2 separate regions of the Homo sapiens genome follow, and region 2 is linked to region 1. A link means that fine-mapping ties the variant in region 1 to the expression of a gene that starts in the linked region. Tissue or cell type: whole blood. Region 1 holds a variant in brackets; the other region holds the start of a gene. All regions are shown on one strand. Distances are from middle to middle.

The links. PIP is the estimated chance that this variant, and not a neighbour inherited with it, causes the effect.
Region 2: it holds the start of RRAD, and the variant in region 1 is fine-mapped to the expression of RRAD in whole blood (TOPMed, PIP above 0.99).

The regions. Positions count from the first base shown.
Region 1 is chr16:67,149,923-67,158,022 of GRCh38, forward strand. B3GNT9 (UDP-GlcNAc:betaGal beta-1,3-N-acetylglucosaminyltransferase 9) reads right to left here and starts at 1,076. Exons shown (of 2, transcript NM_033309.3): 1 at 943-1,076; 2 at 1-749. The coding sequence starts at 563. It overlaps TRADD (TNFRSF1A associated via death domain), which reads right to left. Exons shown (of 5, transcript NM_003789.4): 2 at 6,588-6,746; 3 at 5,455-5,732; 4 at 5,174-5,372; 5 at 4,263-5,037. The coding sequence starts at 6,738. The coding sequence ends at 4,727. RefSeq lists silencers at 432-861, 872-1,031, 5,528-5,717, 5,758-5,827 and an enhancer at 5,694-6,595. The variant G/T (reference allele first, on the strand shown) is at 3,386.
Region 2 is chr16:66,922,232-66,930,331 of GRCh38, forward strand. RRAD (RRAD, Ras related glycolysis inhibitor and calcium channel regulator) reads right to left here and starts at 3,304. Exons shown (of 5, transcript NM_004165.3): 1 at 3,178-3,304; 2 at 2,579-2,963; 3 at 1,615-1,688; 4 at 1,285-1,489; 5 at 1-122. The coding sequence starts at 2,948. RefSeq lists enhancers at 1-458, 4,924-6,123, 5,841-6,010 and silencers at 2,669-3,108, 3,239-3,298.

The sequences.
Region 1 (8,100 bases):
GCAAGGCTCTCGGCCCGCAGCAGGGCGCGCCAGTGGGTTCGCGCGCCCTCCCCAACTTCGTCGGCCCCGCCCGAGCCTGCGCCCCTGGGCACGCCCAGCAAGAACACGCGGCGCACCAGCGCCCCCTGCACGCGACCCTCCGCGCCCCACGTCTGGCGCACGGCTTGGCGCCGCTCGAAGTCCTCTGCCACCGACTTGACAGCAATAAGCAGGTCCGGGCGGCCACCGGGTGCGCCGTCGCCGCGGCACTTGTGCGGCTGGTTAATGAGCAGTGGAAACCGCCGCTGGTCCTTGGCGCGCAAATAGCGGGCGAAGTCAAAGGGTCCCGTAGGCGTGGGCGGCGCCGGTGTGTCCCCTTCGTAGGCCGGCGGGGCTGCACCCGCGTCGGGTAACTGGAACGCGCGGGGTCCGGGGGTGGGCCTCGGTGCCGCCCTCCCTCGCCCTCGCGGCGCGCTCGCCGTCGGGGCCGCGCCGTCGCGCTGCGCATAGAGTAAGAGGCCCAGGGAGGCGCCAAGGAGCAGCGTGAGCAATGCGTCCCTGCGTAGGCGCAGCCTCCTCCTCATCTCCGCGCGGCCTGCGCCCTCCCTCCCCTGTAAGGGTCGCAGTCGGCAGCAGGGGGCAGCGAGCCCCGCCCTCCCCAGCTGAGGGGGCGGGAGGCCACGCCCCGGGGGGGGCTCCAGCGACCGACGGTTGAGCCCCTTGCGTTGTTCTCCTCCTCCCGGCCGTGTCGCACCGCCGGGACCGGCAGCCTGAAGGGACAAGAAGTTCACCCATGTAGCCAACTCCCCCGCGGCCTCAGCTCCGGCCCAGGACTGCGACCCAGGGCCGGGCAGGGAGACTGGGAGCCTCGGCCCCTCCCCCGCCCGCCTCCCTCGCGCTGAGGCCGAATCCCTTCCACCCTGCCATCCCCTCAATGTCGGGCCCTGGGGTCCCGACACTCACGCTCGGCCCTCGGAAGTGGCGCAGCCCCGGACGCCCTGGCCTCCGGGGCTCAGCGCAGGGTCCGAGGGGCCGCCATGGACCGGGCCCGAGCCAAATGCAGCGTTGGCAGGAAGGGGGACCGGTGCCGTGCCACGTGACCCTCCAGCTGTGCGCGCCCAGACTTCTGGAGCTCAGCTCCGCCCCGGCGCCAGGAGCACTCCGGCCTCAGAGTGGGGACTAATCCCTGAGAGGGAGCCTCCTCACTCTCAGTCCCTCTGGGAAGGGCTGGTCTGGGTGCTCACACCCCAAATTCGCCTTTCTGGGGATTGGGAAGAAGCATCAACTCCCCTGGTTAGCTCCCCCAACTATCCACTCCCCACTCCCGCGTCTCTGGAGTGGGGCGGAGCCTGGGCTGCTAGGAGCCCCTGAGCAGGCCGGTTCCAAATGCGCATGAACCTGGCCACCATCCCGGGCGGGCCTCTCCTCAGCAGCCCTGATTCCATCAGGCAGGGTGCATACGCTGCCCCCGAGACACATGGCTGTCTTCTTACTCCTGGTTCTGCCATGCTCCCCACCCCCAGTAAACACACGCACGGGACAAACAAGGCAGCCCACCCAATCCTCAGGGCAACTCTGCCAGCAGCTCTCATTCATGCCCAGATGGGGACACTGGGGGGCTCTTCGGGGAGTTAAGTGACTTGCCCAGGATCCAAAGGCCAGAAAGCTCTGCCCCCAGGTCTTCTGAAATTCAGGCCAGGATTATTTTATCTGTCCTTGCCCCGCTCATTCATCCACTGGGATACAGAACAGGGGGCCAACCCAGTCTGCTTTAATTTCACAGGCAAGCACTTCAGCCTGTCTCCCCGGGGGCTAATGGACCTGAGCCCAAGCCAGGTGCAGTTCTGAGTCCCCTGGTCCCCAGCATAGCCTACTGCAGGTAGAAATGATCAGGCCTGTGCAGCTGCAGGTCAGACAGGGCTGGCAAGGATGGGGACAGCTTGGGAAGACTCCTGGCGGAGGCCTTGGCTAAAGGATTGCTCTGGGATGCAGGTGGACAGAGGTGCTCTGCAATGGAGAGCTAAGTCCTTGCGCAGCTCAGCTGCCAGCTCTCTCTTTCTTGGTCCCAGCCCATGTGGTGGAGCCTGGAATAGACAGCCTCTACTGGTCTCTTAAGAACCCAGCCCCATCCTCTGTCCAAGGGCTATATCTGCTCCTGACGGCTTCTTCCCACCAATGTTCAATCTTAAAAAGCCACCTCTCTGGCTGGGTGTGGTGGCTTATGCCTGTAACCTCAACACTTTGGGAGGCTGAGGTGAGTGGATCACTTGAGGTCAGGAAGTCAAGACCAGCCTGGCCAACGTGGTGAAACCCCCATCTCTACTAAAAATACAAAAATTAGCTAGACATGGTGGTGGGCACCTGTAATCCCAGCTACTTAGAGGGCTGAGGCAGGAGAATTGCTTGAACCTGGAAGGTGGAGGTTGCAGTGAGCCAAGAACACACCACTGCACTCCATCCTGGGCAACAGAGCGAGACTGTCTCAAAAAAAAAAAAAGGCCAGTCGTGGTGGCTTACTCCTGTAATCCCAACACTTTGGGAGGCCAAGGCAGGTGGATCACTTGAGGCCAGGAGTTTGAGACCAGCCTGGCCAACATGGAGAAACCCTGTCTCTATTAAAAATACAAAAATTAGCCAGGTATGGTGGCACGTGCCTGTAATCCCAGGTACTTGGGAGGCTGAGGCAGGAAAATCACTTGAACCCGGGAGACGAAGGCTGCAATGAGCCGAGATCGTGCCACTGCACTCCAACCTGGCAACAGAGTGAGACTCTCTCCAAAAAAAAAAAAAAAAAAAAAAGCCAAATCTCCACCCTGAGCCTTACTCTTTTTGGTCACAAAGTAATCAGGAGTCCTCTGCTCCAGCTTTCTCCGCGGCCTCACCTTCCATTCCCTCCTGTGATAAAGCTTCGGGCTGCCTCCACCATGACTCAGAAAGACCCCTGACTGGTAAGCTCCTTTTAACTGAGTCCAACAGACACTCCTCGGTCTTGACTACCCGCTCCATTATAGTGGGTGGGTAATCCCCTGGTTTCCAAATCTCCTGGTTTTCCTCCTTCCTCTTTGGCTGTTCCCATTCTGGTTGGTGTCCTTCAGGACATCCCCTGGGGCCACCCCACCCACTCCCCACCTGTCTATTCATCAATCTTTAGATTGAACCCTCATCCTGAACTCAGAACTACAGACCCAACTACCCTCATACTCTCTCCCCGGATGCACTGCAGGAACATCATGCTCAACTTGTCCCAAACAGAGCAAGCATTTCATTTCCCCCCAGGGCCCCATCCCAGCAAGCAGTCCCACCCACCATCCAACTGGCAAAGGCAGAAACTTGGGGCCCTCTCTCAGCCATTCCTCACCCAGTGTCACCAGGCCTGTTACTCTTCCACCCACACAGCTCTTTGGTG[G/T]TCATCCCCTTCCCTCCATCTCTGCTGCTACTGCCCCAGCCTGGGGCCACCATTTCCCCCACCCCCATCCTCATCAACCTCCCAGTCTTGGCCAGGTGCGGTGGCACATGCCTGTAATCCCAGCACTTTGGGAGACCAAGGTGGGTGGATCACCTGAGGTCAGGAGTTTGAGACCAGCCTGACCAACATGGAGAAACCCCATCTCTACTAAAAATACAAAATTAGCTGGGCATGGTGGTGGGCGCCTGTAATCCCAGCTACTTGGGAGGCTGAAACAGGAGAATTGCTTGAACCCAGGAGGTGGAGGTTGCAGTGAGCCAAAAACGTGCCATTACACTACAGCCTGGGAAATAAGAGTGAAGCTCCATCTGAAAAAAAATTAAAATTAAAAAAAAAAAAAAAACAACCACCTCCCAGTCTTAACTCCCGAAACTCTTCAAAGGCTTCCTACTGGCCTCATTGAAAAACCCACAAGCCTTCCTCAAGCCCTTGCCTGAGACTGTGCCCCGAACACTGCCCTTCTCTCGATAGCCCACCCCTATGCCTACTCACACTCATCTCCTCCAGGAAGCCTACCCCCTGTCCCCTGCCCAGGTTAGGCCCCTTCCTCCATCCTCCACAACTTCTCTTTTTTTTTCTTTCTTTTTTTTTTTTTTTTTTTGAGACAGGGTCTCACTCTGTCACCCAGGCTGGAGTGCAGTAGCTCAGTGACATCTCACTGCAGCCTCAACCTTCCATGCTCCAGGGATCCTCCCACCTCAGCCTCCTAAGTGGCTGGGACTACCCAGGCTGGTCTCAAACTCCTGAGCTCAAGCAATCCTCCTATCTCTGTCTCCCAAATTGTTGGGATTACAGGTGTAAGCCACTACTACTTGTATTTCTCACATCAAAATCCGTGTTATACTTTATTATCATTGCTTAACATTCGGGGTCCCACGCTGAGTGTGAGCTGGGGGCAGGCAAGATTGATTCCTGTTTTACTTCACTGCAGTATCTGCAGCACCCAGGATGAAGTCCAGGACACCAAAGATCAAGGTGCTTCATGAGTGAAACTGTAAGGGCTGGCTGTAAGCCCCGCTTCTGGGATGGGAGAAGGTGAGGCTGATCTCCAAAGCAGGTCCCCCCCACCCCACACTCTATCAAAGTACCTGAGGCAGAATCCCCAATGATGCACCCCCAGTGGTCTGGCTCCTGGGGAAGGCAATCAACTCTGCCCCAGCAGGTCCAGCAGATAGGCCAAGTGGAGTTTCAGGGTCCCGTGGATGGACAGGGGTTCAGCAATAGCCGCAGAAGGAACCCTAAGGCCATCCAGGTTCTCCAAAAGCTGGCTGCACCCCTGGTCTAGGCCAGGCCGCCATTGGGATCGGTCAGGCCCAGCAAGTCCTCTGCCAGGCTGGTGAGCTCGTTCTCCTCGAGTGCCTCCACCAGGCGCTGCAGCGTGGCGCGGCGGCCCTCGGCCTGCACGAAGCGCCGCAGCAGCTGGAAGGCCTGCTCGTACAGTCCCTCGCGCTCGTACTCGTAGGCCAGCGAGTCCAGCGCCGGGTCCCGCAGCGCCCGGCAGCCTCGCTGCAGTGAGCGCCCCACCTTGCGCCATTTGAGACCCACAGAGCGCGCGAACGTCTGTTGGTCCTTCAGGCTCAGCGGCCGATTCACTGCAGAGGGAGTGGGGAAACGGGGTGAGGGCGGGGACCCCCAGCGCCGGTCCCACCCATCCCCACCCGGCAACGACCCCTGCCCCTCCCCAGACTCCAACCTCCTGGTGACCCCGCCTCTCCACCTGCGCCTCACCTACAGGCTGACCCTGGAACAGAAAAGTCTGGGCAGGTGGCGGCGGCGGCGGCGGCTTCACCTCCGACAGAGAGGGCACCGGGGGCTGCAAGGGGGCCGAAGCGACCTCCCCGTCGCCACCCCGGGCCCCCGAGCCGCACTTCAGATTTCGCAGCGCATCCTCCAGCTCAGCCAGTTCTTCATCCCGGAGCCGGTCGGGCTAGGGGAATGGAACGTGCCGTCACGGGGGACTTAACCGCGGATCCCCGCCCTACCCCATCCTGACCCTAGCCCGGCCGCACCTGCTGGGCTAGGATGCAACTCAAACAGCGCTCCTCGTCCGCCAGCAAAGCGTCCAGCCGCTCGGCGCCGGCGCGCAGCTCCAGTTGCAGCGGCACCGAGTGCTGGGCGAGCGCGGCCGCCAGGCTCCTCTGCAGCGCGGCGCGCAGCGCCCCCTCGCGGTAGGCGCGGAGGAAGCGGCCACAGGGCTGCCGCCCGCAGAATCGCAGCTGCACGATCAGCTGCGGGTCGCTGCGGTGGATCTTCAGCATCTGCAGCACGTCCGGGCTCCCGCCGCTCTCTGCGGAGGCGGGCGGTCAGGCGCCGGGCGGTCCCCAAGCTCGGCCGTTCTCCAAACGGCCGGAGGAGGGGCGAAGCCCGTGGTGAAGCCCCGCGTCCCATCCCCTGACCTAGGGTGCAGTTACCCCAGAGTACCCAGCTGGGAAGCAAAATTGGGATACAAACAGCAATAACCCAGAAAGAAGACCAGGATCTGTCACAGGGAGCACCCTAAGACAGAGTGGGTGCCACCTAACCCCCGCTCTCACGCCCCAAATGAGGGTTGGCAAAAGAGAGGGACTTCGAAGCACAGAAAAGGGGGCGTGTGCCCTGGGCAAACAAGCCGTCTGGGTAGGCGGCCAGCAGGGCAGAGGAGGGCGAGAGGTCTCAGGTCTTCGGCCTCCACCAAGCGCGACTCCCACTGCTCGGGAAGAAGAGGGGCTCTCGCCGCTCTGAGGCCACGAACAGATCCCCCAACCCGCTTCAGCCTCCTGTGGCCTCTGCCCTGAGATGGGAAAGGGGGGCCTGGAAGGGTAGGTACTGGGGAGGGGTCTTGAGCAAGGAGTGCTGCAGTAAGAGAGGAAAAGAGGAGAGAGACATCCACAATTAGTAGAAAGGAGTGAGCCGGCTGGTGGAGGGGGGCGGGGATGGAGCAAAGGACGTTAGTGCACAAATTGGTAAATCATACACAGACTCGAGAACACACGCCTATCCTCAAGGTCATGCCACAAGCAAAGAAGAGAGTCTGCACAGCCAGGGGTCCTCCGTCTTGCTCCTCCCACCCCAAATCTTCTTCTTAAAGGTGGCTAAACCCAGGCCCACCCACAAAATGCTCCAGGCCACCCCTTCCTCTCCACATGCCCGCCCATCCACGCACCTGCCAAGGCAGCCTGCAGAGCCCTGTACACTGCCACCTTCTGCTGGGGGTGCGCGTAGGCATCCGACAGGACCACCTTGTCCAGCGAGGACTCCACAAACAGGTATGCGCTGCCCACCCACTCTTCGTGCCCATTTTGCCCAGCTGCCATCTCACCTCCTGGAGATGCAGACAGTCAGGTATCCAGTTCATCCCCCCTCCCTCCACCCTGGAGACAACTACCCAGCCCCACGTGGTTCAGCTGTCCCCACCACAGTAGCCTCAAGTCCCACATGGTTCAGTTGTCCCCACCACTGGTTGGCATACTTGGGACAGGAGTTCACCATCTCACAGGAAGCCCCTTGAGCTCCTGGCTCTGTACAGAGTCCCACCCGCCCCAGGCTTGCAGTGAGGACTGTCCCTCCACTGCCTTCTTGGAGAAAGAGCCCAAGGTCACAGTGGAGGGGGAGCAGAGGCAGATCCTGCAATGGGGCTTCTCTGCTTCCTTCTCAGGCCTGTGTGTCTCTCTTACCAATGCGGACAAGAGACATCTTCATTCTGGATGGTGCCCATGCCCCAAAGCCAACCAGACCCATATCCTGGCCTTGCCTTCTGAGTAGACTTGAGCCCAGCATTTCTGGAGGACCTCAGCCTAAGACTAAACCTCCTGTCTTCACTTCGAAGGGCACCTGTAGTTTGCATCTACCCAGATTCTCTCCCCAAGCCTGACTTACCTTTGGGGACTTCCCTCCTCCCTCTTCTCAATCCATGTGCCTGTGTCCCACTCCCTAGTTCCAGGTCGGGCTTGTGTACCAGACCTGGCCAATCTGCATATTCCATTCACATTTCTGCAGTGATTAGTTCAGGGCGGGGTATAGGACTTAAGTTGGACCCATGAGAATCAACGCTGCGACTCTGGTTGAGCCAATAGGAAAGAGGCACTACTTTCCCTTCCCTTGGGGCTGAACTGGAAGGAAAAGGTAGCTCTCCTTTAGCACTGCTTGGGAAGAGCCTGGCTGGGAATGAAGCTGACACAGAAAGAAAGAGTCAAGAGATGGAGAAGTGCATTCCTAAGCATACTAGGCCCCTGGATCCAGCCGTCCCTGAAGCCATTGCACACTGGACTTTTCAGTTATGTGAGCTAAATAATTCCTTTTTGTTATAAAGCCCTTGGAGTTCGGCTCCAGTCATTTCCAACACAAATTGCTCTATTCCTTCCCTGTCCAGAAAAAGCCAGGGCCCCTTGGTGCTAGTATAGTATCTCCTTCCTCCATCTTCTGACAAAAACCTAGCTCTGGACCAGCGGGGGCAAAATTCCCAGCCAAGGAACCACTGCACTGACCTACAGCTCAATGGTCTCCCAGTTACTACCCCGTGAGACAGCAAGTAGAAAACTGCCTCCTCTTTCTCCCCACCTCACCCTTTTCCTACCCACCCTTTTCCTATAATCATGGGCTCAAGGCCCTACCTCCTGCCCCATCAGTCACACTCCTGTACTCTCATCAGGGTTTATATATGGTGGGCTAAGAGGAGT
Region 2 (8,100 bases), 230 kb before region 1:
GCTGTCCCTGCGCAGGCGTATCTGGCGCACGACACCTTCAAACAGCGCCTGGACATTGTGGTGCAATGCCGCTGATGTCTCAATGAACTTGCAGTCAAAGACCACCGCGCAGGCCCGGCCCTCTGTGTGGGTGGGGAAAGGCAGGCACCAGTAAACAAAGGGTGGGTGAATGAGGAGTCCCCTCCAACAGTGGCCACCCATGGAAGCTGCCACTCGAGAATTTGCAAGGTCCTCCCCGAAAACACAGAGACCCCAGCTCCTGTACTGAGGGTACTGGGCACTGCTGCGTCACCCAGTAGGCAGAGTGCCTGCATTTAAGGAGCCCCCAAAACAGTGGCCCTCAAAAGGAGATCCATTTATTGAAATAATTTGAAGCCTGATATTTAAACAAAGTACGACAGTAGTAAACACAGGAAAATGAGAACTATGTTGGACAACTTAGTATTTTATTTTATTTTATTTTATTTTTCTGAGATAGAGTCTCGCTGTCTCCCAGGCTGGAGTGCAGTGGCACAATCTCTGCTCACTGAAAGCTCCGCCTCCCGGGTTCACGCCATTCTCCTGCCTCAGCCTCCCGAGTAGCTGGGACTACAGGCGCCCGCCACCACGCCCGGCTAATTTTTGTATTTTTAGTAGAGATGGGGTTTCACCATGCTAGCCAGGATGGTCTCGATCTCCTGACCTCGTGATCCACCCGCCTCGGCCTCCCAAAGTGCTGGGATTACAGGCGTTAGCCACCCCCTGGCCCATGCCCCGCACAACTTAGTATTTTTTAATTCGAGGTTATATCATGATGAATGATCCAGTGGACTGGGGTTGCGGAGGCAAGGTCACCAAGTCACTGCTGGGTTCCTCTGAGGGGCTCAGTACTGGGGTCCACAGAAAAGGATGCTGAGGCCAAGTGGGAAGGGTCTTCCCCAGGGCCAAGTCTACTCTAAGAATGGCCCAGACCTAGCACACAGGCTCTGACCTCCTGGCCTGTTCCCCTACACTCTCTTCCACCCATTTACCCCCCCAACCAGCCAGGCCAGGACCAAGAGGGGCAGGAGAGGAGGGCCCTGCGGTGCCCAGCTCCCCTATCAGATTTGGTTCTTTCCCCAGCCCTCTGGGGCCTTCCGGAGCCCTGTGAGCAGGCACCAGCTCTCTCCCATTTCCCTCCCCGCCAGTTTTCTTTCTGAACATTTTTAGCCTCTGATGATCCCCAGGGACTCAAGCTGAGCCAAGACTGCCTGGATCAGGGCCCAGCTGGGCTCTCCCTCCCCCTGCAACCTGCCGCCTACTCACCATCCACCGAGACCTCACGAGAGCGCACCAGGTCGCTCTTGTTGCCCACGAGGATGATGGGCACATCATCTGTTTGCCGTGCACGCCGCAGCTGGACCCGCAGTTCTGAGGCCTTCTCGAAGCTGCCCTTGTCCGTCACTGAGTACACAATGACATAGGCATCCCCCATGGCCATGCAGTGGCCGGGCAACCAGCGGCCCCCGTCCTGGAGAACACACAACACACATCTGCCCAACAGTCCTCATGCCCCCGACACGAGCCTGGCACTCCCAGACCTCTAACCCAACTCACTCCTCCCTCCCCTGCCCTGGGTCTCTGCTTGCACCCTACCTGCTCCCAAATGTCGTAGACCATGAGTGATGCCTCTTCTCCGTCCACTACAATGGAGCGATCATAGGTGTGCCCTAGGCAGAAGGCCAGTAGACAGGTTACCAGCTGGTTGTCAAAGCCGCTGCTGCCAGGTTTCCTGTTCTGGCCACACCCTCCAACTCTTCCCCAGAGCCCTCCTTACCCTCCACTCCACTTGCAGATGCTGGTATGTGGCAACAGCAGTGCCAGGCAGGGAAGTGGGGGCTGGAGGGCATGGTGTGCCTGACCTCCACCCACATGCCCCCCCTGGGGACCTTGGCCACCTAGGGCTCCTCTCTTAGAAATCCCTCTGGTTAGAAACTCTGACCTGTCCCTGATAGGCAGGGAGGGATGTCCAGTCCCATCCCACAGAGTAGCCATATCTATGCCCTGGCCTTCTACTCTGGGCATTTCTTCCCTACCAAAGGCTGGGGGGTGTCCCTTCTCCTTTCCTTTCCCCATTTATGAAGTGGGTAGGTAGAGGCATGATTCTGAAAGCGCCAATAGAATTCCACAGTATTGGCCAGGTGCGGTGGCTCACGCCTGTAATCCCAGCACTTTGGGAAGCCAAGGTGGGCGGATCACGAGGTCAGAAATTCCAGACCAGCCTGGCCAACATGGTGAAACCCCAACTCTACTAAAAACACAAATATTAGCCGGGCGTGGTAGCAGGCGCCTGTAATCCTAGCTACTCTGGAGGCTGAGGCAGGAGAATCCCTTGAAACCTGAAGGCGGAGGTTGCAGTGAGCCTAGATCGAGGCCACTGCACTCCAGCCTGGGAAAAAGAGCGAAACTCTGTCTCAAAATAATAATAAAATAATAATAATAATAATAATAACAACAACAACAACTATAATTCCACGGTATTTGCGGCTTTGAGTACCGGTCTCAGCCCCTAGTCCTAGCCCCGGGATCGCCCCTCCCCTGAACAGCTGGGTCCCCTCACCTGCTGCCTCTGCTTCAGGCCCGTCCTCCACACCGCCGAAGATGCGCGCCAGGGCGCTCTTGCCCACGCCGGGCGCCCCCAGCAGCAGCACCTTGTAAACGCTCTCGTCTGAGTCGCTGCCCCCTGAGCTGAGCGAGTCCTCGGAGTCCTCGGGCCAGTCCAGCCTGGGACCCTGGGTCCCCGTCCCGGCCGCGGCCGCCGTCAGGGCACCCGGGGTCAGCGCCGCCTGCAGGTCGCGCTCGTCCACCGGCATGCTGCGGCGGTGCAGCGGCGGGGCGGGGCCCCAGGGTGTGCTGCCCCGACGGCGCTCGCGCTCCTGGCCCCCACCGCGGCTCCCGCCCGCTCCGCTGCCGCCGCCGTTCAGGGTCATCGCGTCCGGGACCGTCTAGGGGATCAGGAACCCGAGTGGCCGTGTAAGCCGCGAGGGAGGCGGGACCCGGGGCGCACCTGCCCAACCCGGAGTCAGGCGGGATGCTCCGGCCGAGGTCCCGCCGCAGCCCTCCCCCAGCCCCCAGGTCGCGGCGCCCTCACCCGGGACCCCTCCGGACCTGGCGCATCCATCTGCAGCCGCCCCGACCCCGCTCCGCCAGGACACTCACCCACTCGCACACAGACACGCTCAGGACTAGGATCCGGATTAGGAGGCCACGCACTCGTAGTCCGGACTCGGACTTTAGGGTTTCCGCCGCCGCTGCTGCTGCAGCCACCGCCTTCTCAGCCCGCACTGGGCTCTGGCTCCAGAGCCGCCTATTTAAGCCTCCACCCGCCCCCGCTCCCGCCCCCGGTCCACGCTGCTGCGGGGGCTGACGTGTCTGTCCACCCCCACCAGGGGAATCCCCCACCCTCTTCCTCGGACCTTACATCCCCGACACCCCGCCCTACCCGCCAGGGGAGTAGCGGTAGCTGTCTGGGAATAGAGGGGCTGACCGGTAGGCGAGGTCCGGAGCTGAGGGTGTGTGTGAGAAGGAGAGAGAGAGCGAGGTTGCGGGGGGAGTACGTGATGGGGAGGCAGGCAGCGGGGTAAACCCAATCAGCCAAAAGCAGCAACTGCCCTCTGGAGAAGAATTCGGTCTGGCCCCGTGAGACTGAATTCTCCCTTTCCTCTCCCCAAGTCCCGGCTCGTCCTTTTAGCAAGTAAGCTAGTTACAGGCTGGACAGAGATCCCCCTTCTCTGCCCATGACACCCACTCCCCATAGGCTCAGGTCTGAGCTAGAATTTAGGGGGTGTCCTAAATTCACACAAAATCCTTTCCACTCCCCATCCTGGAGTTGAAGATTCTCCCTAATGAGCCTAACCTTCAGTGTGAGGGTTGGTGTCACCCCATGAGCCCCTGGGGGCCCTGAGAGGGCTGTTGGGGGTGGGGGCAGCTCTGACAGAGTTGCAGGTGGAGATGCCTGCTTGAACCCTGGGGAGGATACCCCAGCCCAGAAGAGGGAAGGGATTAAACTCAGTCCCCATCCCACCTCCCAGCACCCACCAGGCAGCTGCCAGCAACTCTGCTAAAAATAAATAATCTGCCCCAGCCCTGGCCCTGGCCGTGGCTCTGGTTATTCTGCTCCTGGACTGGAAGTTGCCCAGAGTTGGGGAAATCCAGGCCAATGGGTGTTGAATGCCAGCAGGAGCCAGCCACTTCGAGTCGTCAAGGTCTCCCTTCTTCCCTCTAGCTGTAGGCTGAGCCAGCCACCCAGGGCACATCCAGGGCCTGGAGGTTCAGGCCCCCACCCAAAAGGGGCATAAACACAGGGTGTGGTCAAGGCATGAGGAGTGTCTTAGCTCCCTGCTCATCTCTCAGGGGTCTGAGGGTTGCAGGTCAGGCTGTGAGGTATTTTGTGACAGGGACCTGCTATCAGACTGTGACATCTGATTGTGACAAGTGTGGTGGGGGTGGGAGGGCATCCATTTGGGGCTCAGGTGACATCACAGATGGATGGACCCTGGTGGGCTGTGGTAGGTTGTCATGGAGACCTGGGCCAGGCTCTTTGGCTGCTGCATCAGTTTCCTTGGCAACGCCTAAGAAGGCCTTGGATTGAGGAGGGCCTGGCTCGGTAAGATTAGGGCCCTCTTGTCCTTGAGGTCTTCAAAGTAGGCAAAAGCTGGGCTGAGGGGTGGCCTGCCCATGGTCCTAGGGGATCTTGGAGGCCTGAGCATCCCCATGCTGGTTCTGGCTTCCTGAACGAACTCCAGTGGGAAGAGGAAGTTATGGGCAGAGCCTCCCGTTAGCAGGCAAGTCTAAAGAGCCACCACACACTTCCCATGAGGAATCCTGGCTGGGCTGCCTGTGCCCCCTCCAACCCCATGACTGTGCCACTGGAAAGAGCCTCCTCTGGGTGTCTGGCAGAGGGCGAGGGTGGGGGGTAGCTGTGGCCCTTCCCAGCAGGGGGCCATGCAAAGAAGGAGGGCTGGGTTTCCCCTCTGGCAATCTGAGCTCTTGACCTCAGCAGTGTTTCTTCATTGCCAAGGGAACTGCAACCACAAAGGGCCACTCAAGCCCCAGGCATTCCAGTGGCTGCTCCAACAGGCCAGAGACACTCACCACAAGCTAGATATGGCCAGGGGCCCCAGGGATTAACACCAGGACACAACCTTGAGACACCCCCACTCCCACCACCTGGTTCTCCCAGCTCTCTGGGCTGAGCATGGCTGCCCAGGAGGAATAAACTGAGGCTAGAACCACTCCTAGGTCCGCCCGGGCTTCAGATCCCAGCTGTGCTCCTTGCTAGCTGTTTCACCTGTGTCCATTTATCTAGGCTGAGCCTCAGTTTCTCCAGTGTAGAACAGGGATCACCTCTTCCTGATGGTTATTATAAGACAAAACAAACATGAAATGCAGAGGCACAGTAGTTGGCTCAAGTCGGGCACACAGTAATATCTCACTAAGAGCACGTTTATCATGATCATCCTTCGTTGGATGGGGCAGGTTAGGTGAATTTGTGGTCCCTCTCCTGTTTCTGCTCCACTCTCTCCAGGATGGTGGTCTGTCCAGGAGTGGGGCAGAGGTCTCAGGAACAATGCAGATACCTCTCCCCTAGCCCCATACCCATGTCTCCTCTCTGTAGGACCCCACACTCTTCCCCGTCCCTCAGGTGACAAGATGCTGCAGAGGGAACTGGGCTGGGCTTCAGTGTCCCCACCCCCTCCTCACACCACAGCCTTCAGGCCCCAGAGCCTCTGCTGTGTTCTAAGGCCCAATGCATTCATTCATTCCGCGGTCCTGTACTAAATACCTACTGTGTGCCAGGCCCTTGTGCTGGGGGCAGGATGATGAGCAAAAATAGACATGGCCGGGCATGTTCATACATGTCATCTAATCCCTGGGTCAAACTCAGCTATGATTTGTTGTTCCCATTTTGTAGACATGGTAACCAAAGCCTGAGGAGTCACAGGCCAGAAACAGCAGAGCCAGACATACCTGGTGGAGGGTTTCAGGAACCTCAAACTTCACCATCCCCTGTACCCTTGTGTCCTCAGATAGCATCTGGGGTTCCAGAAAGTTCCCTGGGCACTGGCCCAGGATGCACAGATGGTGGCCCTGCAGGCAGCCAGGGGCCAGGCACTGATGAGTCAAGAGTGACAAGAGAACTATCTGATATGTCAGCTGTGGCATGAGCAGTTTGGTGTCCCTCACCCACCATGGCCTGGCTGCCAGGAAGGCCAGCCAAATGACTCAATCACACCTGCCGCCCCCATGACTCCCTTCATCCCCAGCTCAACACAGACACCATGGCCACCTCAGACAGGGACTGTCCGGCAGAAGGTACACACGTCGTAGGGTGTGAGGCCTTCAGCTCGGGAAGGCTCCCTGGGGCTCAGCTGTTCACTCTGCCTCTCTGGAGCCCTCAGCTTCCTCATCTGTGCGGGATACAGTGCCTAGATCATCAGAGCTAGGCCTAGACCCATTTAAATCTCCCAAGGGCAGTCCCAAGTGGTTGCCATGACTATCCCCCTCACAGATGAAGAAGCTCTGGGCAATAGGGGCTGATGGCTTCACCTCTCTGATCTTAGGTAGCCAGATCCAGCACCTCCTCTTGGTCATTAGGTGGCGAGGCCACTCCCTCCTAAGAGTGAGCTGAGTGGGAGCAATAGGAGTTGGGGTTCAGGATGGGCTTAGCCCCTTCTGTAGGCAACGGCGCCCCCTGCCAGCTGCACAGCACCTATCAAGCTGCTCAGGGCCTCCTTTACTCCCTAGCTGTAAGTTTTTTTTTTTTTTTGAGACAGGGTGTTGCTCTGTCACCCAGGACGGAGTGCAGTGGCACAATCATAGCTCACTGCAGCCTCAACCTCCTGGGCTCAAGCGATCCTCCCACCTCCGCCTCCCGAGTAGCTGGAACCACAGGCATGCACCACCATTCCCCACTAAATACACACACACATTTTATTTTAGAGACAGGGTCTTGCTATGTTGCCCAGGCTTGCCTCAAAATGCTGGGCTCAGGCGATCCTCACATCAGCCTCCCAAAATGCTGGGATTACAAGTGTGAGCCACCGTGCCCGGCTAGATGTCTTGAGAAGTAAATTAGAGTTGTCCCTTGGTATCCACAGGGGATTGGCTCCAGGATCCCCATGAATCCCAAAATCCATGAATACTTAACTCCTTTACATATATTTTTTTACTTTGTTTTTTAAACTCAACTTCAGTGGCTGAGATCAAGTCTCTTATATAAAATGGCACAGTATCTGCATTTAACCTCTGCACATTCTTCCATATATTTTAAGTCATCTCCGGATTACTACTGTAATACCTAATACAATGTAAATGCTATGTAAGTTGTTGTTAGACTGCATTGTTTAGGGAATAACAACAAGAAAAAAAGTTTGTACATGTCCAGTACAGACACAGTCATCCTAGGCCTAACTACATTTTCGATCCACAGCGGGTTGTACCCATGGATGTAGAACGCATGGATAATGGAGGTCTGACTACATTTATTCTAGAAGCCCATTTCCTGTCCGAAAATTGGGGATAAAGAATAGCAAGCGAGGTGTGATGGCACATGCCTGCAGTCCCAAGAATTCAGGAGGCTGAGGCAAGAGAATCCCTGGAACCCAGGCATTCAAGGCTGTAGTGTGCTATAATCATACCTACGGATAGCCACAGTACTCCAGCCTGGGCAACATAGCGAGATTCTGTGTCTCAAAAAAAAAAAAAAAAAAGAGAGAGAGAGGATAGCAATTGCTGCATAGGGCTGGATGGAGAACTGACTAGATAGTAAGTGTAAAGCCCTCGACTGAATTCCACTCTTAGGATAGGCTCAATGCTGTCAGCAGGCCCTCAAGAACAGATCTGCAAAATGGCCAGGATCCCTACTGAGGCTTCTCTGCCCACAATCATATCTGGGCCTCAGTAGGGATGAGGTGGGGTTGGGCACTGCTTCTTAATATTGCCATTTATCTTCAGAGAATGAGACTAAAGCAGGAAGGATGCTCCCCCTGGGAAAGTGATCCTAACCAGCTAAGCCAAGGTCTAAGCCCTACAGTCTGTCCAGGTGACCAAATGCAATCTGGGCATAGGGCCAAGGGGAGG